Linked DNA regions of Homo sapiens. The protein of the gene in region 4 interacts with the protein of the main gene of each other region in a biochemical or structural test. Each region holds a gene or a part of one and is shown on either strand. Other genes may lie near its edges.

Region 1 (7,038 bases), on a different chromosome or scaffold from region 4:
CTCTCACCACTCCTATTCAACATAGTGTTGGAAGTTCTGGCCAGGGCAATTAGGCAGGAGAAGGAAATAAAGGGTATTCAATTAGGAAAAGAGGAAGTCAAATTGTCCCTGTTTGCAGACGACATGATTGTATATCTAGAAAACCCCATTGTCTCAGCCCAAAATCTCCTTAAGCTGATAAGCAACTTCAGCAAAGTCTCAGGATACAAAATCAATGTACAAAAATCACAAGCATTCTTATACACCAACAACAGACAAACAGAGAGCCAAATCATGAGTGAACTCCCATTCACAATTGCTTCAAAGAGAATAAAATACCTAGGAATCCAACTTACAAGGGATGTGAAGGACCTCTTCAAGGAGAACTACAAACCACTGCTCAAGGAAATAAAAGAGGATACAAACAAATGGAAGAATATTCCATGCTCATGGGTAGGAAGAATCAATATCGTGAAAATGGCCATACTGCCCAAGGTAATTTACAGATTCAATGTCATCCCCATCAAGCTACCAATGACTTTCTTCACAGAATTGGAAAAAACTACTTTAAAGTTCATATGGAACCAAAAAAGAGCCCGCATTGCCAAGTCAATCCTAAGCCAAAAGAACAAAGCTGGAGGCATCACACTACCTGACTTCAAACTATACTACAAGGCTACAGTAACCAAAACAGCATGGTACTGGTACAAAAACAGAGATATAGATCAATGGAACAGAACAGAGCCCTCAGAAATAACACCGCGTATCTATAACTATCTGATCTTTGACAAACCTGAGAAAAACAAGCAATGGGGAAAGGATTCCCTATTTAATAAATGGTGCTGGGAAAACTGGCTAGCCATATGTAGAAAGCTGAAACTGGATCCCTTCCTTACACCTTATACAAAAATCAATTCAAGATGGATTAAAGATTTAAATGTTAGACCTAAAACCATAAAAACCCTAGAAGAAAACCTAGGCATTACCATTCAGGACATAGGCATGGGCAAGGACTTCATGTCCAAAACACCAAAAGCAATGGCAACAAAAGCCAAAATTGACAAATGGGATCTAATTCAACTAAAGAGCTTCTGCACAGCAAAAGAAACTACCATCAGAGTGAACAGGCAACCTACAAAATGGGAGAAAATTTTCGCAACCTACTCATCTGACAAAGGGCTAATAACCAGAATCTACAATGAACTCAAACAAATTTACAAGACAAAAACAAACAACCCCATCAAAAAGTGGGCAAAGGACATGAACAGGCACTTCTCAAAAGAAGACATTTATGCAGCCAAAAAACACATGAAAAAATGCTCATCATCACTGGCCATCAGAGAAATGCAAATCAAAACCACAATGAGATACCATCTCACACCAGTTAGAATGGCAATCATTAAAAAGTCAGGAAACAACAGGTGCTGGAGAGGATGTGGAGAAATAGGAACACTTTTACACTGTTGGTGGGACTGTAAACTAGTTCAAGCATTGTGGAAGTCAGTGTGGCGATTCCTCAGGGATCTAGAACTAGAAATACCATTTGACCCAGCCATCCCATTACTGGGTATATACCCAAATGACTATAAATCATGCTGCTATAAAGACACATGCACACGTATGTTTATTGCGGCATTATTCACAATAGCAAAGACTTGGAACCAACCCAAATGTCCAACAATGATAGACCGGATTAAGAAAATGTGGCACATATACACCATGGAATACTATGCAGCCATAAAAAATGATGAGTTCGTGTCCTTTGTAGGGACATGGATGAAATTGGAAATCATCATTCTCAGTAAACTATCGCAAGAACGAAAAACCAAACACCGCATATTCTCACTCATAGGTGGGAACTGAACAATGAGATCACATGGACACAGGAAGGGGAATATCACACTCTGGGGACTGTGGTGGGGTGGGGGGAGGGGGGAGGGATAGCATTGGGAGATATACCTAATGCTAGATGATGAGTTAGTGGGTGCAGCGCACCAGCATGGCACATGTATACATATGTAACTAACCTGCACAATGTGCACATGTACCCTAAAACTTAAAGTATAATTAAAAAAAAATAGAAAAAAGAAAAAAAAAAATTTATTGAAGGAATAAATGATTACTCAAAATACTTGTTTTGAGAGGCCGAGACTTAATACTATCTGGACGAATACAAAAATCAGTTTTCCTGTTATCCTTGGATTGGGCAGGTGGTTCTCATCAAGCCCCAGAATTTCATTGTAAGTTCTATTTTGTGTATGAGGATCACTTAGCAAGGATTAGGGAGTAAAGTATCCTATTAAAAATATGATTTGCAGAAACTTAAAAAAAAAAACAGGTTGAAAAAAGACCTGCATCCAACTTTAACATCTTGCTTTTTCAAAACAATTTAAATTTGTTATGTATGAGAAAGAAATGGAATACAGCTCAAGAAAGAGCTTATTATGCTAAAATTCTCTGATTGGCATAAATCAGAGAACCTCATCCGAAAATAAATGTATAGAAAAAAGCGGCAGTCAATGGTTCTCAACTAGAAGCAATTGAAAGGGGTAGAAAAGGAGGGATGGTTTCGAAATGACTGGAGGACTGCTACCAGCAGTTAGTGGATGTGAAACAAGCATGGTGTCCTGTAACATGTGAGACAGTCCTAAGAGCTCCACTGAGAAACAATGCAGGTGACTAACATCCCCAAATACCTGATGCCATTTCTTCAGCTTGTTTTTCCTTCTCCTCTTCTCTTTTTTCATCTTCAGCATTAAGAAGTGCTGACACAATATCATTAACTGTTTTATAGTTCTCTCCAGTTGTCAGGATTTTACTTTGAACTGTTTGTTTCACCAGGTCTCTATTAAAGCCCATTTCCAAGGCAGATTTAACCACAGGTGTATTCATCATGACAGCATCTTCTGAAGAACTTTCTCCAGGTCCAAAATGAATAACTATTTGAAAAGAAACATGCTAATATTAAATTCCACAAACATAAACCTATGGAAAAAAGTATCATGGCACAATCTTTATTCATCCTTTACTCTCATATTCTGGTAAAGGAGATGAGCTATATGCATCGATTACCTATAACTCCAATAAAAGTTTGAACTTCATAATGGTCAAATGAGAATACAATTAATATGCTATACTTTTTACAAAACCCACCTCTCTGGCTACATCCTAGACTTACTTAATGAAAGATTCTCTAAGGATAAGAATTAGGAATCTGTATCTTTTGAATATTTCCCAAATGATTCTGATGTATAGTCATTTCTGGAAACCAATATGCTATACGAACTTAGAAGTGAGAAATAATCTTCTCCAGCCAGGAAAGTGGGGGGAAATCACAAAGACTTCATGGAAAAGTGGCGCATTAGAGTTTGGACTTGAAGGATGGACAGGGTCTAGACAAGTGGATTGCTGAGGTAGAGAGAATAACATAAACAAAAATGGGAAGTATAGTAAAATAGAAGATCAGTTCACCCAGAAGATGTAGTGAAAAAGTATGGCTTCAGAAGTAATTAAGGCAGTATGATTTTAGACAGTGACAGATGCTCTGAAGAAAAAAGTAGTGTAAGGTCATTAAAAGAAACCAGGAAGCAGGAAGTCATTTTAGATAGGGTAGTCAGGGAAGCATTTTCTGCTAAGAGTCAATGCTAGCCCATATGATACTTTTATGAAAAAATACAAAAAGACATAATTCTTCAAGACACTACTGCCATCTTCTGGAAACTTATAATAAATATACAACGTCAACAATGTCCCCTCTTGTTCAAACACGCGTGGAATCCGTGTCCGAAGAAATGGCACCAGAACAAAGATTTAAATAACAAGGAATGAGCTCTATTTCATTTTTAAGCGCATGCCTTGAGGAAATACTTTATGTTCAAGATAAGAGACACATTAGAGGATCATTACAGCAATATTTACAGCAGAAAAAAAAAAACAGAAAATAACAGGAATAGCTCTCAATAGGGAATGGATAAATAAAATGCAATATATGCTGGACTACTGTGAAAAAATTTAAAAATATACAAACGAACTAAACTGGTATATACCTAGCCCATGCTACTGAGCTCTGGGTATTAGAAGTTAGAAACAGAACTGTATGTAAGCATCAGAGGGGAATTTGGCATTGCCTACAGCATTTAGTTTTCTTTCCCTTATGAAGAATGTATACATCTATTACATGTAAAATTATTAATACTGGGGGGAAAAAGGAGTGAGCTATGGAAATATCTCAAAGAAGTCTTCTAAGCAAAGAGAACAGCAAGTGTAAAAACCTTAAATTGAGGGAAAAGCTTGACATGATCAAGAAACAGAAAGAAGGTGGTAGAAGGTAAAAAAAGGAGGACAATGCCCAGATAAGCAGAGGCTTCCTAAGAGTTTATATTTTATTCTAAGTTTGGTAGAATATTCTAGGAGTGTTTCAAGCATGCAACTGATAAAACTTGACTTGTGTTTTCAGAAGATGACTCTGGCAGCTCGGTGGAGATGTTACTTTAATGGGGTAAACCAGAATCAGGAAGACTTGTTAGGATGTTAGACACAGATGACGGTAGTTTGGATTAGGTTAATAGTGGTGGAGGGCCGGGCATGGTGGCTCATGCCTGTAATCCCAGCACTTTGGGAGCCAAGGCGGGCGGATCATGAGGTGAGGAGATCGAGACCATCCTGGCTAATCCAGTGAAACCCCATCTCTACTAAAAAAAAATACAAAAAATTAGCCGGGCGTGGTGGTGGGCGCCTGTAGTCCCAGCTACCTGGGAGGCTGAGGCAAGAGAATGGCGTGAACCCGGCGGGTGGAGCTTCCAGTGAGCCAAAATTGCGCCACTGCACTCCAGCCTGGGCAACAGAGCAAGACTCCATCTCAAAAAAAAAAAACAGTGGTGGAGATGGTGAGATGTAGTCAGATTTGGCATATGTTATGAAGACAGAAATGAAAAGACTTCTGATAGATTAAATATACAAACTAAAGGAAGGAGAGGAATCAGAGATGATGCCTAACTTGAGCCAACTTTTAATGCTGGGAAATGAGTACCATTAACTGAGATGGGGAAGACCAAAGAAGGAACAAATCTGAGGGATGAAGAATGGGGAAGAAAATTTCCGGTTTGGTCATATTAACTCTACAATGTCTGTTACAGCCAAGTAGAGATTTAAACAGTTAGCTGGACATTCCAGCTTGGGGCTCAGGAAATGGAGAAATAAATTTAAGCTGAGCTATGAGGGGTACTCCAACATTTTGAAGTTTGAAAAAGGAGCAGCCAACAAAGGAAATTGTTCAGGACCAACCAGGGAAATAGAAAACCAAGAGTATGGGGTCTGATAAGTCAAGCAAAAAATGTGTCTTAAGAAAGATGAGGCCAAATGCAGTGGCTCATGCCTGCAATCCCAGCACTATGGGAGGCCGAGGCAGGCAGATTGCTTAAGCTCAAGAGTTTGAGACCAGCCTGGGCAACATGGTGAAACCCTGTATCTACAAACACACACACACACACACACACACACACTTAGCTGAATGTGATGGTGCATGCCTGTAGTCCCAGCTACTTGGGAGGCTGAGGTGAGAGAATCACCTGAGCCAGGGAAGTTAAGGCTGCAGTGAGCCATGATGGCACCTAACCACACTACAGCCTGGGTGACAAAGTGAGACCTTGTTTCACAAAAAGAAAAAACAACGACAAAGCACCCAGTGATTATCAAATGCTAATTAACAGGTCAAGTAGTGGATTTGCTAACACGGCAGTCCCTGGTTACCATGACAAGAACAGTTTCTAGCAGAACAAGTGAAAGAATGAAAGGTGAGGAAGTAAAACAGAGTTAAGCACAGATAAATCTTCCTAGGTATTTTGTTGTAAAGGGAAGCAGAGTAATAAGGTAATAGCTGAATGGGGACATTCATTCATGGAAATTTTCCTAGGATTAGCAAAAGTACATTATGTTTATATGCTAACATGAGTGATTCAGGAGAGGTGGAAAAATTGAAGACTCGAGAGAAAGGGTATGTCACTGCCAAAGTAACCTTCTTAAGTTGACAGTAGGGGATGGAATACAGAGGACAAGTAGAAGTAATGGCCTTAGAAAAGGGCAAGGACAATTCATCTTTTATGAACAAACAGAAAAGTACAAGGATAAATTATGTAGCCTAGTGGTTTTGCTGGTGAGGCAATAAAGCAGCTCTCTTTTGGATTCTATTTTCTTAGGGAAGCAAGATTATAAACTGACAGTAAGGTGGGAAGAGAGTGTTAGAAAATTATCAAGACAGAAAACAAGAAACAGTCATTTTAAAGATTGACAAAGTGATTTTATTAGGACCTATGGTAGAACTGCAGGGCAGCCTACTTAATAGCAGTGGTTATAAATTTTAAGAACAGCCCACACTGCTATCTATCTTTTCTAGGTCTATTACACGGGAGATAGTTGTCATGTACCCAGGTACTCTCCTTCCTATTTTCCAGTACTCTCCTTCCTATTTTCCAGTCAAATACTACCAAATCCTTCATCCAATCCTCCTGAGCCATGGTTTCTAAGACTCATACATCTTGGTCACCTTTCTCTGGTCCAGTTAACAAATCTGCCAATCTTTCTTGAAATGCTGTGCCACAAACAGAATGGCCCTTTGTAGATGTGATTGGCACATAAAACGGGATTACTACCTTAGCCATTTTAGACACAATAACATATGTATATTACATAAATTGACAGATGTGGCTAACATTAAGCTCTAATCAAAAGCTATACTATTTCCTGCCCTTGCACTGAAATACAACATACCTGACTTAAATACCTAACATCTAGTCCAATTCTTGAATCATATGTGAATTGACGTTTTCCAAATCATGCCAACTCACAGCAAACTCTTCTTTTCTGGAGGGTTTATTATTTGCACCGCTTATTTGGCATTGCTTTGAACTATTTTTTGTTTTTCTTTTGCTTATGTCTCATTTCTCCAGTTGGAATGTCAGCACTAAAAGTGATAAGTATAGCACTAGAACAAAAACTAGTACACTTTTAGGGTCCTCCACAGTGTCATTACACTCTCTCTCTCTCTCTCTCTCTCTCTCTCTG
Region 2 (3,673 bases), on a different chromosome or scaffold from region 4:
GTGTAGCCAGGCTGGCTTGGATGGCAGCTGTGAGCAGCCCCCTACTCAGGCACACTCTGGGTGGCTGTGGGAGCAGCAGCAGTCCCAGGCAGCCAAGGCCTGGCCTCAGGAGCCCAGCCCAGCCAGTGGGGCAGATGGTGAGGGCCAGGTTATCTTTAAATGGCACCTTACTCAGCCTGCCACTCTGCCAGTTGGGCAGGATGGCGGTAGACAAGTGTTATTTTGGGATCTGAGGGCAAGGGAGGAAGGCTCTGTTTATAGCTCTCTCCTTTCTGAACCTACTCTCTCTCCTGGGGAGGATTTGGGGCCATGGGCCTCAGCCCTCCAGCTGACCCTTTCCAACCTAAGGTTTCTGTTTTCAGCCTAGCTGTTAGCCATCTGCACAGATGGGAGTGTTGAATCTACAGAGGCACAGGGTTTCTCAGAAAGGCCAGCTCTGTAAAGGCAGGTTTAGGTGGTGACAACTGCATTAGACTTGGGATCAGACTAATAATAGGTAACATTAACACTTACTATGAGGCAGCACTACGAAGTGCTTTGTGTTATATTAACTTTATTTAATCCTCACAATCACTCCATGAAACAGATAACTAGTATTACACTTGTTCTGTGGATTAGGAAATGGAGACATAATTTAAGCAGCTTGTCCAAAGTCACCCAACAGGCAAGTGGCAAAGCCAGGGTTCAAATCCAGGCAGTCTAGCTCCGGAGCCCATGCTCTGAACCACTAACTAGATATGAGTCCTGCTCTGCCACTTACTGGTTCTGCAAACTTGAAGGAACCACTCCCCCTCTGGTCTTGGCTTCCTCTTTTGGAAACGGACTACCGTTCGGTTCAACCCACTAGAATCCCCAAGTTAGAACTGGCAGAGACACTCTGATCCATTGTGTCTCTCTCCCTGTTCAAGGGAAAAAGAACTTACTCAAGGTCACACAACCGGGCACTGGCCCTAGTTTCTGTGCTCTTGCTGTGAACCTCCCTGTGGCAGGGATGAGTCAGCGGAGCTGACGAGGGATATTAGTTATGAATTTGCAATCACAAAATCAGGTGTGGAAGAAATACATTTATTTTCTTTTAACCAAAATAGATGAGAATGAGTCTCTATCCTGCTACCTGGTTTGTTGTTATTATGGTTTGTTCCCCTCTCCAGAATCACGAAAAGGTCCTGGGGTCTCACACAGTGCAAAACATTGAGGTGAGCCCTCTAAGCCTTGGTCTGCACAGGTTCTGCTCATACATGCTCTTAAGCTTGCAAATTCAGAAGTGTTGGTCTGTGTGCCCCAGGTACAAGAGACCTTCCCAGGGAGCCTTGGTGACCAGGGCCCAGCATCCCTGGGGACTCCATGCAGCCTTTTCCCTAGGAAGTTCTATCATCTCCAGGTGCTTTGCCACAATCAGGGCAGGAGTCTCACCGCTCATAGGCCCCGTGGACTTTTTTGTCCCCTACTTATCTTTTGGAAAACTACCCCCCTTTTTCTCTCCCCTTCTTCCTCCGGGACCCTGGGCCTAATTGCAGTTCACTAGAGCTTTCACCATAGGGTCCAGAAGCACAGCTATTCTCATGCAGTCCTGCTGTCCACCCTACAAAAGCAACTAAGGCAAGGAAATGCAAAGAATTCAGGTATGTTCTTGGACTAAGTTGTTGGGGGGGGGGGAATCTAGTGAAAGCAAATTAATACACCGATAGTTTATGTCACACAGCTAACCACAGAAAAACTGCTTAGTAGGTGGAAGGCAAGAGCTGGGCCTACCACCTGTTTCTATCATGTTCCTCAGGCAGGGCTGCAGTGCTACAATTCATTCCTCAGAGCTGTCCTCCCAAAGGCTCACCAAGACCCTAATTTAGCAGCAGCATGTGTGAAATTGAACTGAGTCACAGTGTAATCCAGTGAGTCAGGAAGAATGAGCCAAACATAGCTCCCAGCTATGGGTGGGGGATAGGATGGGACATCTTCCACCACTAGAGGTGCTTTAATGAAGTCATCCTTAATTCTAACTACAATCCTGTGAGGTAGGTATTAGTTCCCTATTTTACAGATGAGGGAACCAAGGCTTGAAGGAAACGTCACTTGCCGCAGCTATGTAATCATGCCAAGTCAGAACAACTCAAGCCTGGGAGGGACTTCTAGGCCTCCTAGTCAGGCCAGTAGTTCCTCATTGCTTTTCTTCCTACAGCACATTTGCTACCATATCATGTATTCTACACAGGTTTAAAAACCCTAGTATACTTTTCAATTTTAGGAAGCCAGCAGTAATGCCACCCTTTTCCCAGTTACTCAAAAAAGGAAAAAACTGGAATGTAAGTGTCATTAGATGGCAAATGTTGACCTGTACCATCCATTAGGGAAACTTAAATTCACAAAACTTGTTTTTTTTTTTGTTTTTTTTTTTTTTTGAGGCAGAGTGTCGCTCTGTCGCCCAGGCTGGAGTGTAGTGGCATGATCTTGGCTCACTGCAACCTCTGCCTCCCGGGTTCAAGCAATTCTCCTGCTTCAGCTGCCTGAGTAGCTAGGATTATAGGCATGCGCCACCATGCCCAGCTAATTTTTTTGTATTTTTAGTAGAGACGGGGTTTCACCATGCTGGCCAGGCTGCTCTTGAACTCTTGATGTCGTGGTCCGCCTGCCTCGGCCTCCCAAAGTGCTGGGATTACAGGTGTGAGCCACTATGCCCGGCCTACAAAAATTGGAATTTTATTGCGATTACTTTTGGGTGCTTTGCTACTGGAATCTTGGTAAAGTATGGTTAAGACCTAGTCTAAATCCCCGTGAGAATGGGGAATTTTCCCGTGACTGCTAACTAAAGGTCTAGCCTCTGATCGAGCACTTGGATTGATGAGGAGGAACTCACTGCAACATTTTAAGACAATTCATTCCACAGCTCTCACTTTTGGAAAATCCTTACTTGTCAGTCTTTAAGTCCTACTGACTTTATCTTGTCAACATCTCTAATCCAGCTCTTCCACCCTATCCCCTCTAGTTACAACCTTAGTTCAGGCTCTGGGTTTTCCCACCTGGACTGCTGTAGCTGCTGCCAGACTGCATTCCTTTCTCCCATCTCCCACCCCTTCAATCCAGGTTCCAAGTCACCCTTCTAGTCACATTTGCATCAACACTGCAACACTTTTCTAAGACACAAAACCTGATCACTTCCCTGTTTAGTTATCTTGGGTAGTCTCCCATTCTCTAGAGGAAGCAGGTCTTGAAGGATCCTTCACAATCTGCCCCCCACTTGTCCTTCCAGCTTTATTTCTGGCCAGGACTCCCGTGAACTTAAGCATAAATATCAGTACTTGTAACGTGCTTATAAGGTCTGAAAATGAAATTGTTTCATGACGGCCTTTTCTTACTTTTTCTCTGCAATGTCTTACCCCACTCTCATCTGCCTGGCAAATGCACAGGAAAGGCAAAACAAATAGGCAACAAGTACAAGCTGCTTGGACTATAATCACACACTTGCAGGGTGACCTTTGATAGGTTAACAATATCTGTCTGCTTCAGTTTCATCAATCTGTAAAACTGGGTGAGCAAAGTGGACTACTTTGTAAGGTTAGTAGGTGGTCTGAGGTAAAAGTATTTAGCATACCCACTGGCGTTTAAATACTCCAGAAGCAGGTATTGTTAGCTCCTTGCAAGTGTTCAAGGGTTGCCTTCTCCATGCAACTTACCCGAC
Region 3 (7,038 bases), on a different chromosome or scaffold from region 4:
CTAAAAAGTAGAAAATCAAGTTCAATCAATCATGACATGGCCTACATTTAAGCTGACTTTTATACTCTCCCCACCGGGGAAACTCTGGAAACCAAGGTGTATCACAAGGCCTTGAAGCCTTACCTGGTAAGGCCCAGTTACCCCCAGCTTTTCCTGTGTCTACAGTTTGCCAGGACTCCTAGGAATTCAGGCACATGGGAGAATACATTCCTGAATCAGGATTTTATCATCAACATTGCCTGTGAGACATAGGCAATTTCAAAGTTATAGTGAAATGCAAACAACTTTTAATACTCATCTCTGTCAAAAGGAGGATCTTTGATTTATTTATTTATTTATTTATTTATTTATTTATTTATTTATTTTTTTTTTGAGACGGAGTTTCGCTCTGTCGCCCAGGCTGGAGCGCAGTGGCGCGATCTCGACTCACTGCAAGCTCCGCCTCCCGGGTTCATGCCATTCTCCTGCCTCAGCCTCCCGAGTAGCTGGGACTACAGGCGCGCGCCACCATGCCCAGCTAATTTTTGTATTTTTAGTAGAGACGGGGTTTCACCGTGTCAGCCAGGATGGTCTCGATCTCCTGACCTCATGATCCGCCCGTCTCGGCCTCCCAAAGTGCTGGGATTACAGGCGTGAGCCACCGCGCCCGGCCGGATCTTTGATTTATGAAGACTCATTGTTTATCATCAAAGTTACCAGTAGTCACTAAAAAAAAAAAAAAAACTTTTGCTATTTGCAGTGTCAGGCATTTTGTGCCACAAGCTGAAGGCAACTGGTTCCCTTTTTCACCCACAGGATTAAAAAATTCCAGGAATGAGAGAAAACTAAGTTAGGCTATTATGAGACCTATGGCAATAATCCCCTAGATGTGAAGCTAGTCTTGTTTTGTTTTTTTTTTTTAAAAACACAAAAACAAAAAAACAAGATTATACTTTTTCTTTAGCCCTCATTTAAAATAAAGAGTAAAATAAATATTGCTTTTCCCCGCTTTTCTTTCCCTTAAGACAAAAAGAAAAGAGTGAACAGATTAATGACTTCTTACTCATTTAGCAATGGAAAATAGACCAAGAATTCAGGAACATCCACAACACCTTCCAAGTTGAAGTCATATTTGCAGCCAAATAAAGGATAATCTCCTTTCTTCTGAAATTTCACAGTATATATTTCATTTCCAAATGATTCTGTTTCTGAAGCTTCAAGGCGTCTTCTATCAAGGTTATCCCCCAACCAAAATAAAAAGATTAAAATTGTGATTAGTGTAGACTTATTTTGATCAGATTATGCATGTGAAAAACTACATGATGCACACTTGATTAGCCTTTTAATTATATCTGGGCTACCTTTTTTTTTTTTTTTTAAAGTGACAAGGTCTTAATCTGTCATTCAGGCTGGAGTGTGGTGGTGTGATCATAGCTCACTACAGCCACCAACTCCTGGGCTCAAGTGATCCTCCTGCCTCAGCCTCCTGAGCAAGGACTACAGGGGCGTGCCACCATGCTGGCTAATTTGTAAATTTTTTGTAAAGACAAGGTCTCACTATGTTGTCCAGGCTGGTCTCAAACTCCTGGCCTCAAGCAATCCTCCTGCCTTGGCCTCCCAAAGTGCTAGGATTATAGGCATGAGCCACTGCACTCTCCTGATTTGAGCTACTTTTAAGAAGCAATATACTAAAAGATCACCAACAGTCACACCAATAAAATTAAGCTGGAAGTAGGTATCACTCTCATGACAGCTGGTTCATCTCTGTGCCTGTGTATCTGACCTGCAGTTTGTCTATCACTATAACTTCAGTCTCTAACTTACACACAAAGATGAACTGTTAAAAGTTCACCTGTAAATTTGTCTATTGAATTTAAATTTTGAATGTCTACTCAAATATCTTATGAAAGTGTTCAACACTTATAAGATTAAAATAGCGTATTTTAATAAAATCTACCTCTGATAAACATTTGCTACTTAATACTGAATATTTTATAAACCACAATATATTTAGAAGTACTTACATCAATTCAAAGCTATTGGGAGTAGTACCAATAAAATAGCCCCCAGGGCTAAGTCTCTCACACGCATTTCTCAGCATCATGTCAGCCTGCTCATAAGACTCAAATGAGTAATGACAGACAAACTGACAACTGCAGATGTCAAAACACATTTGTGGGTCACGAAATTTGTCAATCAGAAGTTCCTGAAACAAATTAAAATGAGTTAAGATTGTGAGGTAACTACAACAAAGATTAAAAACTTTTTAGTAAATTAACTTCTAGAATGTAAGGTTCTTCCTTTCCCTCACAATCTTTCCCTTGTACAATAAAGGACACACAGAAATCATGCATGTATTCTAGTTTAACAGAATAATTTGATTCCCACTTTCACAGTATTTAAAAACTGAGGAATTCTGAAATCATGTTTAAAATATATTAGTCAATTATGACATTTCAACTTGATCCTTTCATCACTTTACTTGACAGCTAAAATAAAATGACATTCAACAATAACTTGAGTTAAAAAACATCTGGCGTTTGGCATTTTTTAAAAAATGCAAAAATGTTTTAAAGGTATTACAACTTTCTGGCAGTATACTCCCACTTATCTTTTTCACTTTCAAATTTCAAACAAAATGTGTATGATTAAAGGTATCTATAACAGTTCAGTGAGTCAATAAGTCAATGAAGAACAAAAAGTTCATGGTGAGACTTTCACCCTTGAAGCAGTTCTTTTTAAGAAATTCAGAAACAGGTGGAAGGTAGGAAAAAACCAAACAGGCTCTGATATGTTGGGAAACTAATAAATTACAAGGTGAACAAAACATAGTATAAGTTCAGTTCTATTTCAAAATACTGGAAAATAAATGATGTCCATACCGAAAAGCAACAGCTAATTTCAATTCAAATTATTAAAAGCAAAAAATTACAAGTATTCAGTGAGTCATTCAAGGGAATTTATCATAATAGAATTTCCAGTCAAAAGTGAAAATGCATATTCCAAGATTTTTAAAGTTTCAAAACACATTTTAAAAAATGAGTAGCCGGGCACCATGGCTCATGCCTGTAATCCCAGCACTATGGGAGGCAGGCAGATCACCTGGGCTCAGGAGTTTGAGGCCAGCCTTGGCAACATGGCAAAACCCCATCTTTACAAAATATATAAAAATTAGCTGGGTGTGGTGGCATGTGCCTGTAGTCCCAGCTACTCAGGAGGCTGGGAGGCAGGAGAATCACTTGAGCCTGGGAGGCAGAGGTTGCAGTAAGCTGAGATCGTGCCACTGTGCTCCAGCCTAGGTGACAGAGTAAGACCCTGTCTCAAAAAATAAGAGTAAATTTTTTTAAAAAAGTAAAAATTGAGTTGATTTTTAAAACAAATTATTTACCCAAACTAAAAATGTAAAAAATAAATTGACCAAAGAAAGAAACTGTACCTTTGAGCTGTCAGCAGTTATAAATTCTGCACTGAAAATATATTCACTATCACGACGATTTTTCATGTCCTCATACCGCTGCTGACACTGTTTGACAGAAACATCGGCAATATCTGGAAGGATGGAAGGGTATTAGTAAGTATCAACACAGAATGCCAGAAATCTAGACATTGATCTCAACTGACAAACTCTGGCATAAAAGTCAGCCTTAGTACCAGTGAAAAGGTTTTATTTCCTTTAAAAGAAAAGAAAAGGGCTTTGTTCCGACGCAAATACCCTATCAGTTTTCAAGAGGAACTAAAAGCGTCTCAATAGGTACGGACGCTATAAAAGTTCTATCATGATTTTTAAATGCTTATTCAAAGTAAAAAGGAGAAAGTTTTATTCCAATCTGAATTATAAAACCTAACACTATCAATAAGCCCAGTTTTGGAAATACCAAGGGTATATTTTTATAATAAAATGTTATTAGCCCTTTTCTTTTTTTCTTTTTTGAGACAGAGTCTTGCTGTATTGCCCAGGCTGGAGTGCAGTGGTGCAATCTTCACTCACTGCAACCTCTGCCTCCAGGGTTCAAGTGATTCTCATACCTCAGCCTCCCGAGTAGCTAGGATTATAGGTTGTGTGCCACCATGCCCAGCTAATTTTTTGTATTTTTGGTAGAGGATGGGGTTTCACCACATTGGCCAGGCTGGTCTCTAACTTCTGGCCTCAAGTGATCCACCCTCCTTTGCTTCCCAAAGTGCTGGGGATTATAGGCATGAACCACTGTGCCCAGCCTGCCCTTTTCCCTGTTTAAAGATTCACACTGATAATGCAAAGGCAATGGGATCTTATCACAAATACAAAGTAGCAGCACTAAATGGTACTGGCAGTACTTCATGTATTCTTCACCACTATACAATATGCAGGGGGAGAAAAACAGTTTCATTTAAGAATACCCTTTATAAAATAGTGAAAATTAATTTTATTAAACCTGGGCTTTTGAATACACACTTTTTAAAATGTTGTGTGATGAAATGGGAAGTAACAAAACATTTCTGCTACCTAACAAAGTATGATGGTCATCTTCAAGAACAGTACTGATATGACTGTTCTGAGTTTTGAGCTGTACTGGCCACTTTTTTTCTGAGAAAATTATTTTGACTTGAATGACTGACAAACTACGGTTATGCAGACTTCAGTACCTGGCACATATTTTCTTGAAAATGAACAAAGTGAACCTGTCACTTAAAGTTCCCCAACCCTTGGGCGACAAACCAGTACAGGTCCACGGCCTGTTAGGAACCAGGCTGCACAGCAGGAGGTGAGTGGCAGGCAAGCTAGGTTGCATACTCCTTATGAGAATCTAACACCTGATGATCTGAGGTAGAATTCCATCCCCCCGCTTCTGTGGAAAAACAGTCTTCCATGAAACCGGCCCCTGGTGCCAAAAAGGTTAGGGATCGCTAATTTAAAGGGAGACAAGGGACAGTGTATTTGTTGCCAAAAATAAAATTGACTTTCAAATAAGAATTACAACCCTGAAAAACTCGTATTGATCACTGTGGGCTGGACTTCTTCCCAATACTTTTCTGATTGGCAGTGATATTAAACACGTGATTTTTTGATTCTCAACAATTAGATCTGCATAACTTTAGTGAACAGTATTTTCCAAGTACTATAAAATCATGCAGGAAGTGCAAGACAGATTAATGGATTTTAATGTTACACGGTATAAAAAGTTCATCACTAAGGTTTCAGATTCCATATTGTAACTACTCTTTAAGAAACTACCACTTACTGAGTTTTGATGTAGTAACAGAGGAATATCTACAATTATCAAAAAAGGCTATTAAAATACTTCTTTATTTTACAACTACTTATCAACCAAAATAAAATCACAACATATTGGATGCAGAAACAGGTGTGAGAATCCAGTTGTCTCCTGCAATTTCAAACTCTAAAGGGATTTACAAAAATGTAAAAGCCAGCCTTGTTACTTTTAATGAACTAAAAAATATTTTCAAAATTCTCAGCTTTAATTTCCAATATAGTAAATATCAGTAGCTACTTACCATAATTACATACAAAAAAGCTTTCTGGGGTCCTCAATAATTTTTAAGTATACAGGGCTCATAAAACCAAAAAATCTGAGAACTGCTAATTTGGGCAGTACTTCAGTAGTGGGGGTATGTATCTCTTTTAACTCACCACATCAGAAAGACGCTGACGTCTGCTTGTCCCACTTCAGTGTTAAGACTAACCACCGGGCTAAGGTGATTGATTGATTGATTCATTGCGTTACTATCGACTTTTCCCTTAATGGCTTCCGTAGCAAAAAAAAAAAATTATTGCCTAGATCTATTATTTCATAAAGAATGAAAAAAATTATGATTTTCTAATTCTATAATTCCTCTTTATCTGATTGAAAAAAAAAAGGAACTGCCCTTTTCAACCATCTGATTACAAATGTTTGATTTCCTCCCCTTAATTTATAAGTTTCAGAATAGTTTCTTAGCAACCTTCAAGGGTGAACAATGTGTTTTTCTGATTTGATGTGTCCAACTGCTATTTTTTTTTTAATGTTAAAATTGCCCTATTTTTGCCAATGGAAACCTTTTCAAGTCTGCCCTTTAGACATGACTCCGACCATCTTTGATAGCTTCCTTCCTTTTGGGAAGGAAACGTTATCCCAGGCTTATTAATCTTACTATGAAACTATCAGGAAAGTCTTGTAACTAATTTTTTTTTTTTCGAGACGGAGTCTTGCTCTGTCACTCAGGCTGGTGTGCAGTGGTGCGATCTTGTCTTACTATAACCTTCACCTCCCAGGTAAAAGTGATTCTCCTGCCTCAGCTTCCTGAGTAGCTGAGATTACAGGTGTGCACCACCATGCCCAGCTAATTTTCTGTATTTTTAGTAGAGACAGGGTTTCACAATGTTGGCCAGGCCGGTCTCAAACTCCTGACCTCAAGTGATCCACCCACCTCAGCCTTCCAAAATGTTGGATTACAGGCATGAGCCACCGCGTCAGGCCGTAATTAATTTAAAAAAAACCCATCTCATGCATAGTCCCAGATATCTTGCAATTTGAGACAATCCTTCTTATTTTCCATTTATCTGACTACAAATTATTCTTTCCCATATCATTATTTATCTTACCAGTACAAACTAGCTTGTTAATTCTTCCTTTTTTCCATTTCAGCAAATCTCCACCTTTACCACATCCCAGGTCCAAAACAGTGATATCACGTTTTTTCTTCTGTCGTACCTTTTCCAAAAATTCTCCTAAAAGAGAGAAATCAGTCACAATAAACTACCTCTTCTTCAATTTTACTGAAGTATAAACTGTTACCTCTAATAACCTACTATCTTTTGCCCAATATGTAACATAAACTATTACACATCCATTTATGTAATTTGTAACTTCTGATAAGTAACTAAAAATATGACTAAGAGTTGATTAATCTGATCCTCTATCATTAAAGAGTACGTGTCTGGTGTTTTGGAAAATAAAGGCAGCATTTTGAATGTTAACTTTCAAAAATGAATTTTAAATAGCAGATATTTAAAATTCTAATATAAGACAACACAACACTTGTTCAGGATGAGAGAAAAAGCTAAGTAAGGATTAGAAAAAC
Region 4 (7,038 bases):
ACGAAAAAGGGGGGGGAAAAAAGAAACCTAGTAGTGTATCAAAGGAGCATATCAACAATTATTTTTAAAGGCTTTTAAAAACTATTCTCCCTTTTCCAACCAAATACCTGTGTGAGGCTGTATTGTCTTCTTATACTTCCAATGAAACATCTTAACTCCATAGACTGAAGGCAGAAACAGCTATGAAAATCCAGTTGACTTCTAAGACGGCAAAAATGCGGCCAGGTGCGGTGGCTCATGCCTGTAATCCCAGCACTTTGCGAGGCCGAGGTGGGTGGATCATGAGGTCAGGAGTTCAAGATCAGCCTGGCCAACATGGTGAAACCCCGTCTCTATTAGAAACTACAAAAATTAGCCGGGCATGGTGGCACACACCTGTGGTTCCGGCTACTAGGGAGGCTGAGGCAGAAGAATCGCTTGAACCCGGGAGGTGGAGGTCCAGCCTGGGCGACAGGGCGAGACTCCGAAAAAAAAAAAAACAGATGGCAAAAATGCTGTTCTTCCCATTATATATTTTTTATTTCAAATAATTATTTTCATTACAAAATGTCACTTAGGTTAACATGTGATAGATTTTCTAAACGAATAATTTTACATTTCTCAAGTTTTTCAGGTGAAATTATACATTTTTAAATGTGAAAAATAAAATAACATCTTAGCATTATTTACTGTAAAAATATAGTAAATAACAATAGATAAAAATCCACATAAAGCTCTGTAGAGTCACCAATAATTTTTAAGAGTGTAAAGGAATTGTGAGACCAAATACTTGAGTACTGCTGATTTAAATAAAATATCATACATCCACGCAAGTGACTACTATGCAACTATTAAAAAGTTTAAAAAAAAAAGCTTAACTGTGTGGTAAAGTTTTCCTAAAATTGATATGAAACCCAGAAACCACTGAGGAAAAGCAGTATTTGCCTACATGAAAATTAAAGACCTCTAAAAAAAAAAAAACCATACAATTCCACAGACAATGTTAGAAGACAAATGATATGGATAACCTGTTTCTTTCTGACTTAATACTCCTCCAACTTCCCTGCCTTGGGTGAGTTAGCACTCTAATATAAAATGCTTGGAAATAAACTTGAAAAGATATTCCATAACTTGTTAGCTTGAAAGTAGGGGAAAAAAAAGATAATCCAAAAGAAAAAAAATAGAAGAACTGAATAATCTGTCCTCAGATAAAAACCACAAATCATCAATATGAAAATATTTTGAAACTTCAATTTTAAAATGCAAATTGAAAATACTGAAATTGTTTTCCCAAATCAGACTGGGACCAATCTGATTGGCAACAACTTAAAAGACTAATCACATGAGTTAGCAAGGATATAGAAACCAGGAACTCTCAAACTGTTAAGTCTAAGCCAATAAAACAGAATAATGTGGCAGTATCTGCGCAAAGGTTGTTAAAGGGTAATCTTTGTTCTAGGAGATCTGAAATTTTACCCTATATATTCACACAAGTGCACAATTATGTAAGGATGTAAATTACAGCACTGTGTGTAAAAAGAAAAATCTATACAGCCATTAATGTAAACCTAATAAAATATATGGTGGTATATCAATATAATGCAAGACGGTGGTTTAAAACAATGAGGTAAAATATGCACATACAAACAGAAAAGTCAACTGTATAGACGTATGTATTAAAAAGTATACATATGTGCATTTAATACTTCTGGAATACAAACCAAATTTAACATTGACTACTCTGGGGAGTGAAGAAAGTAAAATGCAAGAAGTAAATAATGAGAAAACTGCCAAAATTGGAGCCATAAAACATAGTATTTTTCCAAATGATACTTGCTATTTTACACAAAAAGTAGAATTTATAGAGAAACTGAAGTCCCCAGAGACTTCATTTTAAGATTTAAACTTTTTTTTTTTTTTTAAACTGATGAGGACACTTAAGAATCCCTTCTTAGACTCCATTCAAGCTGTGAGGGATATATGCCTTGTTTACTTCTCCCCACAATAAAAGTGACACCAAGAACTAGGTTCACAGACAGCTAGAAGATATACAGTTTGTTTCATATCACTGAAAAAAATGAAAAAAAAATGTGGGTTTTGGTGCTACTATTAGGTTAAACTATATAAGACTGCCTCTAACGAATTGTTCAACCTAATACATGTGGTACATTGCTTCCCTGAGGAAGGATTTTATCCTTTATAGACTGTTTGACCTCTGATGTCCCACTAGCTGAGAATCTCCATTGTCTAAAAAACTGATTTGTTCCTCACTGGAGGATATACTGAACCAAAGGGTCTCCTATGAGAAAACTGCATACAGCATATTTGAACTATTTATTTCAGTAGGTCTTCCATGATGAATAAAGGAAACATTTAAAAAAATTGAGATCATAAAAAAATTTTAATAAATGAAACAATTATAAATAGACTTGTGGACTCTTTTAAGTAGAGAGTGAATGGTCTGCCCTAAAAAAAGTAAATAAAAACAAAAAAAGACAAGAAATGAACTGAAATACTTCAAGAACCTCAGAAGTTAATTCCAATTTACTTTCCTCTAGATTGTTACAATGTTTCTGAACTGCCATTTTCTTCCCACCATCAGCATTCAGTGAACTCAAGTTAATTCTCATATACCCCAGAAAATAAATAAAAACAAACCTACTGGAAAGGAGTGGGAAGAGTTGGGAAAAGCCATATAATGAACTAATACTCAATTTCCTGTTACACTATTAACTATGAAAACTTAACTAATTTTAATCTGTCCCCTTTTCTAGTCTCTCACTTACAAACCAACCAACCTTCAAACTCCACATTCCCTGGCTCTCGTTTCTCATTCTCAGTCCAACTTCAAGTCACCTGTTCTTACTCTATACATCTGTATATCTCCTATTCACTCTTCAAACTGCCCTAATCTCTTTTTCCATGTTTTATGGAACTACTCTATGGAACCTTACTAAAAAACTTTTTCCCAAGTCAGCACGGACTTTTTTAAAAGTGTTCAATCCAATGGATATTTTGACATCTTGCTTCATTTGACCTTTTTAGCACATGTGCTGTAAACCACCCTATCTTAGAATAAACCACCTTCTTGGTTTCCATGACCACCACTGTCTCTTTTTTTTTTTTTTGAGATGGAGTTTCGCTCTTGTTGCCCAGGCTGGCAGGCAATGGCGCGATCTCAGTTCACTGCAACCTGCACCTCCTGGGTTCAAGCAATTATCTCACCTCAGCCTCCCGAGCAGCTGGGATTACAGGCGTCTGCCACCATACCCAGCTAATTTTTGTATTTTTTAGTAGAGACGGGGTTTCACCATGTTGGCCAGGTTGGTCTCAAACTCCTGACCTCAGGTGATCCGCCCGCCTCCGCCTCCGCCTCCGCCTCCTGAAGTGCTGGGTTTACAGGCGTGAGCCACCGCGTTGGGCGACCACCACTGTCTTTGTATGTCCATCCTTCATAGGCATTCTTCTTCAACAAAAGCCTCCTATATGATGCTAGTATCCCCGGTCTTTGTCCTGAGTCAAGTTCACTTCTCCTTAAGGGAACTTATTTACTAATGTGGCTTCCATTATGACCAATACTTTTCAAACTAATCTCTCACATAGCTCCTTTTGAACTCAAGACTCACACATAAAACTGTCTGCTGGTCATGGGTCATCCAAGTGAAAATAGAACCCTCAACCTTAGCATATCTAAAACTAGTCTCATAATCTAACTTTCCCTTCAAACTTGCCCCATTCACAATTTACCTTGTGGCCTAACTCAGAAAACCTAGGTGTTAGAAAGCTTACCTGTTCTGTAGGGGATGTTTAATATAGTGTTCTGGGTTAGCAACCTCCTGATTAGATTCCGTTTTCTCCTCTTCTGTAGTCGGGGGATTAGGAGTAGGGGTGGTTTCCTAGTGGAAAATAATATAAAACATTATTTTAAATGTCTTAACACATCTATGACAGCAATATTCTAACTAAACCTGAACTGATATGCTGATAATTTTTTTTTTTTGAGACAGAGTCTCTCTCTGTTGCCCAGGCTGGAGTGCAGTCGTGCGATCTTGGCTCACTGCAACCTCCTCCTCCTCCCAGGTTCAAGCAGTTCTCCTGCCTCAGCCTCCTAAGTAGCTGGGATTACAGATGTGTGCCACCATGCCTGGCTAATTTTTGTATTTTTAGTAGAGACGGGGTTTCACCCCGTTGGTCAGGCTGGTCTTGAACTCCTGACCTTGTGATTCACCTGCCTTGGCCTCCCAAAGTGCTGGGATTACAGGCGTGAGCCACCACACCCGGCACTAGTAGTATTTTTTAAGAAGAAGGAATTAAAGCAGATTGCTTCATAAAACAGACCACAGACCAAACTCTAAAGAACCATTCTCTATTCTCATATCTCTTCATTAAGAGCAAAGAGCAAACGGTTTCTCAAATTTGAAAATATAACAGTATTTATAGTTATCCTTCCACTTGCACTTTTTTTTTTAAATAGCAGGAAGACTGTCACAGACTATGCAACAAAGTTGGGAAAATCTTCTATCTTTCTTAACATACCATCATATTAAGATACTGCATATGGTACTGAAGGGGGTATCAGGAAGGATACAGGATGGAAACTAAAGTTTCAAGAGTATAACAACTGTATCACTGGGCACTGTGGTGCGTCTCTACAATCCCAGCTACTCGGGAGATTAATAGGAGGATTAATAGGAGGATTGCTTGAGCCCAGGAGTTTGAGACCAGCCTGGGCAACACGGCAAGACCCTGTCTCAAAAACAAACAAAACAAAACAAAACAACATTATGATGACAAAAAAGCTTTGTAAAGTGATCAAGCCAATGATGCGCAGGTCTTACCTTCATGGCATACTGTTTACCCTATCGTAACCTAAAAGTTCGGCAACTTAATATTTTCAATGGAACCTAACAAGATGGACATTGGCTTGAACTTAAATCTTCTTTTAGGCTAGACAAAATTAACACTGTCATCTAAAAATATCAGAAAGAAAAGTAGTCTGGGGGCAGTAATTTAAAATAGGTGTTCACCACATTCTTCCATGTAGCTCTTCATACTATCATAAATTGTTGTCAACAAAAGAAGAGAGCCAAAGAAAGGCACTAGGACAAAGACTGATACCAAAAAAAGGGCAATGCAACAAGTGTTTGGATATCAGACTGAAGCAGCAAACAACAGAGATCTATGTTAACATAACAAGATATGTAAGTCAAATATTTATTGTCTAAAAGAATGCAGAGCAGAAAGGTGGTAAATATTTATTTGAAAGAATATGGGTTTTTTTTTTTTTTGTATTTTATTTTTCTTAGAGATGGGGTCTCACTCATAGCTCACTGCAGCCTCAATCTCCCTGGCTCAAGCAATCTTCTTGCCTCAGCTTCCACGGTAACTGGGACTACAGATAGGCACCATGATACCTGGCTAATTCTTTTTTATTTTTAGTAGAGACAAGGTCTCACCATGTTGGCCAGGCTGGTCTCAAACTCCTGAGCTCAAGCAATCCTCCCACCTTGGCCTCCCAAGGGATATGTTTTTTCTTATCAACATATGACATGTACAAGAATTTCTATTAGCCTATAAAGTCACCCAGAACGGAGACCATGTCTTGATTTTACTCAATAATCACAGTACTTAACCCAACAGGAACTTATTAACTTGATTACTTAACTGAATAAATTTAAATGTTTACACAGAATGATTAAGGCCTGAAAATTGACATACAGTAAGTAATGCCTTAAAACCAAACATTTTTATCAACATTTACTTACCAGTAAATTTAAGTGTTCAAACAGATAATTACTGAATGACATTTCCTATCCCACTAGCTTAAAATTAATGATGGGTTTCCAGGCAGACAGTGGGAGTCTCGATGAAAACAATGAGAGACTGGCAGGCAGGTAGGCTTTGGGGGACAGGGTACCAGAGAAAAACTGCTGTAGATGAGAAGTGGGCTCCTCAATATATGTAAAAATCCCTCACAGGTTTTTGGCTAACTCCTAAACTGGCACTTTCAGAGCGTAACTCTGGTTGGCCTAACAGAGAAGAACAGCTAAGCCAAAACTTGCAACTGCCCAGTATTTGTGAAACGTAAGCAGAACGGGTGCAGGGACTTATGTCTGTAATTGCAGCACTTTGAGAGGCCAAGGCGAGAGGACTGCTTGAGTCCAGGAGTTCGAAAACAGCCTCAGCAAGTGAGACCCAGTGAAGAAAGGGGAAGAAAGAAAAAGAAACAATCCTCTTTCTCTCTCTCTCTCAAGTCTTTGGACATACAGGAATTAAAAGCAAGTTATCACTCAGGAAAAACATATTCAGTTCCTAGAATTTTAAAGTGTTATTTTGAATTAAAATAAAAGTCCCACTGTAAGTAACTGATTACTATAGTCTTCATATCAAGAACACATAATCGGCCGGGCATGGTGGCTCACGCCTGTAATCCCAGCACTTTGGGAGGTCAAGGCAAGTGCACCACCTGAGCTCAGGAGTTCAAGACCAGCCTGGCCGACATGGTGAAACCCCATCTCTACTAAAAATGCAAAAATTAGCTGGGCGTGGTAGCACGCGCCTGTAATCCCAGCTACTGGGGAGGCTAAGGCAAGAGAATTGCTTGAACCCAGGAGGCAGAGATTGCAGTGAGCACAGATCGTGCCACTGTTCTCCAGCCTGGGCGACAAGAGCAAAACTCAGTCTCAAAACAAAACAAAAAAGGACACATGATTTTGTACTTTTCCAACAACTTAAAAAAGGAGCTACACATTTTTAAATATGTGTGTATGTATGAATCAGTAAGTATACTAATTTAAAATCTTTAGTCTTCACTTTTAAACATACTAGATTTTAAAACGAATGATGTGAAATACCATAAAAATTTTTATTGGGCATAGACAGTCATCTTTTCGTATGATCTATATGGGAACTAAAAAATATTTCAAGAAACAAGTTCTATTTTAAGGTATCTAACCTTATTTTTAAGATTGCTTCCTATAGACACTAAATAGTTTTAAGTTTACATTCAGTTTAAAAACAAAACTCTACTGCAAAATCCTACCATATTCCTCTCTCTAC

Evidence for each region.
Region 1: the proteins of EIF4E (region 4) and BIRC2 form a complex in vitro, tested with the Homo sapiens proteins (one study listed by BioGRID).
Region 2: the proteins of EIF4E (region 4) and IPO9 form a complex in vitro, tested with the Homo sapiens proteins (one study listed by IntAct).
Region 3: the proteins of EIF4E (region 4) and RNMT form a complex in vitro, tested with the Homo sapiens proteins (one study listed by BioGRID and IntAct).

What each region holds. Positions count from the first base shown.
Region 1 is NC_000011.10:102,364,186-102,371,223, reverse strand, and holds part of BIRC2 (baculoviral IAP repeat-containing protein 2), read right to left. Parts: intron 2,919-7,038; coding exon 2,676-2,918; intron 1-2,675. UniProt on the Homo sapiens protein: Multi-functional protein which regulates not only caspases and apoptosis, but also modulates inflammatory signaling and immunity, mitogenic kinase signaling, and cell proliferation, as well as cell invasion and metastasis.
Region 2 is NC_000001.11:201,881,155-201,884,827, reverse strand, and holds the end of IPO9 (importin-9), read right to left. Parts: 3' UTR 537-3,673; downstream 1-536. UniProt on the Homo sapiens protein: Nuclear transport receptor that mediates nuclear import of proteins, such as histones, proteasome and actin. Serves as receptor for nuclear localization signals (NLS) in cargo substrates.
Region 3 is NC_000018.10:13,736,657-13,743,694, reverse strand, and holds part of RNMT (mRNA cap guanine-N(7) methyltransferase), read right to left. Parts: intron 6,686-7,038; coding exon 6,560-6,685; intron 3,529-6,559; coding exon 3,416-3,528; intron 2,186-3,415; coding exon 2,004-2,185; intron 1,208-2,003; coding exon 1,043-1,207; intron 1-1,042. UniProt on the Homo sapiens protein: Catalytic subunit of the mRNA-capping methyltransferase RNMT:RAMAC complex that methylates the N7 position of the added guanosine to the 5'-cap structure of mRNAs. Binds RNA containing 5'-terminal GpppC.
Region 4 is NC_000004.12:98,898,108-98,905,145, forward strand, and holds part of EIF4E (eukaryotic translation initiation factor 4E), read right to left. Parts: intron 3,876-7,038; coding exon 3,769-3,875; intron 1-3,768. UniProt on the Homo sapiens protein: Acts in the cytoplasm to initiate and regulate protein synthesis and is required in the nucleus for export of a subset of mRNAs from the nucleus to the cytoplasm which promotes processes such as RNA capping, processing and splicing.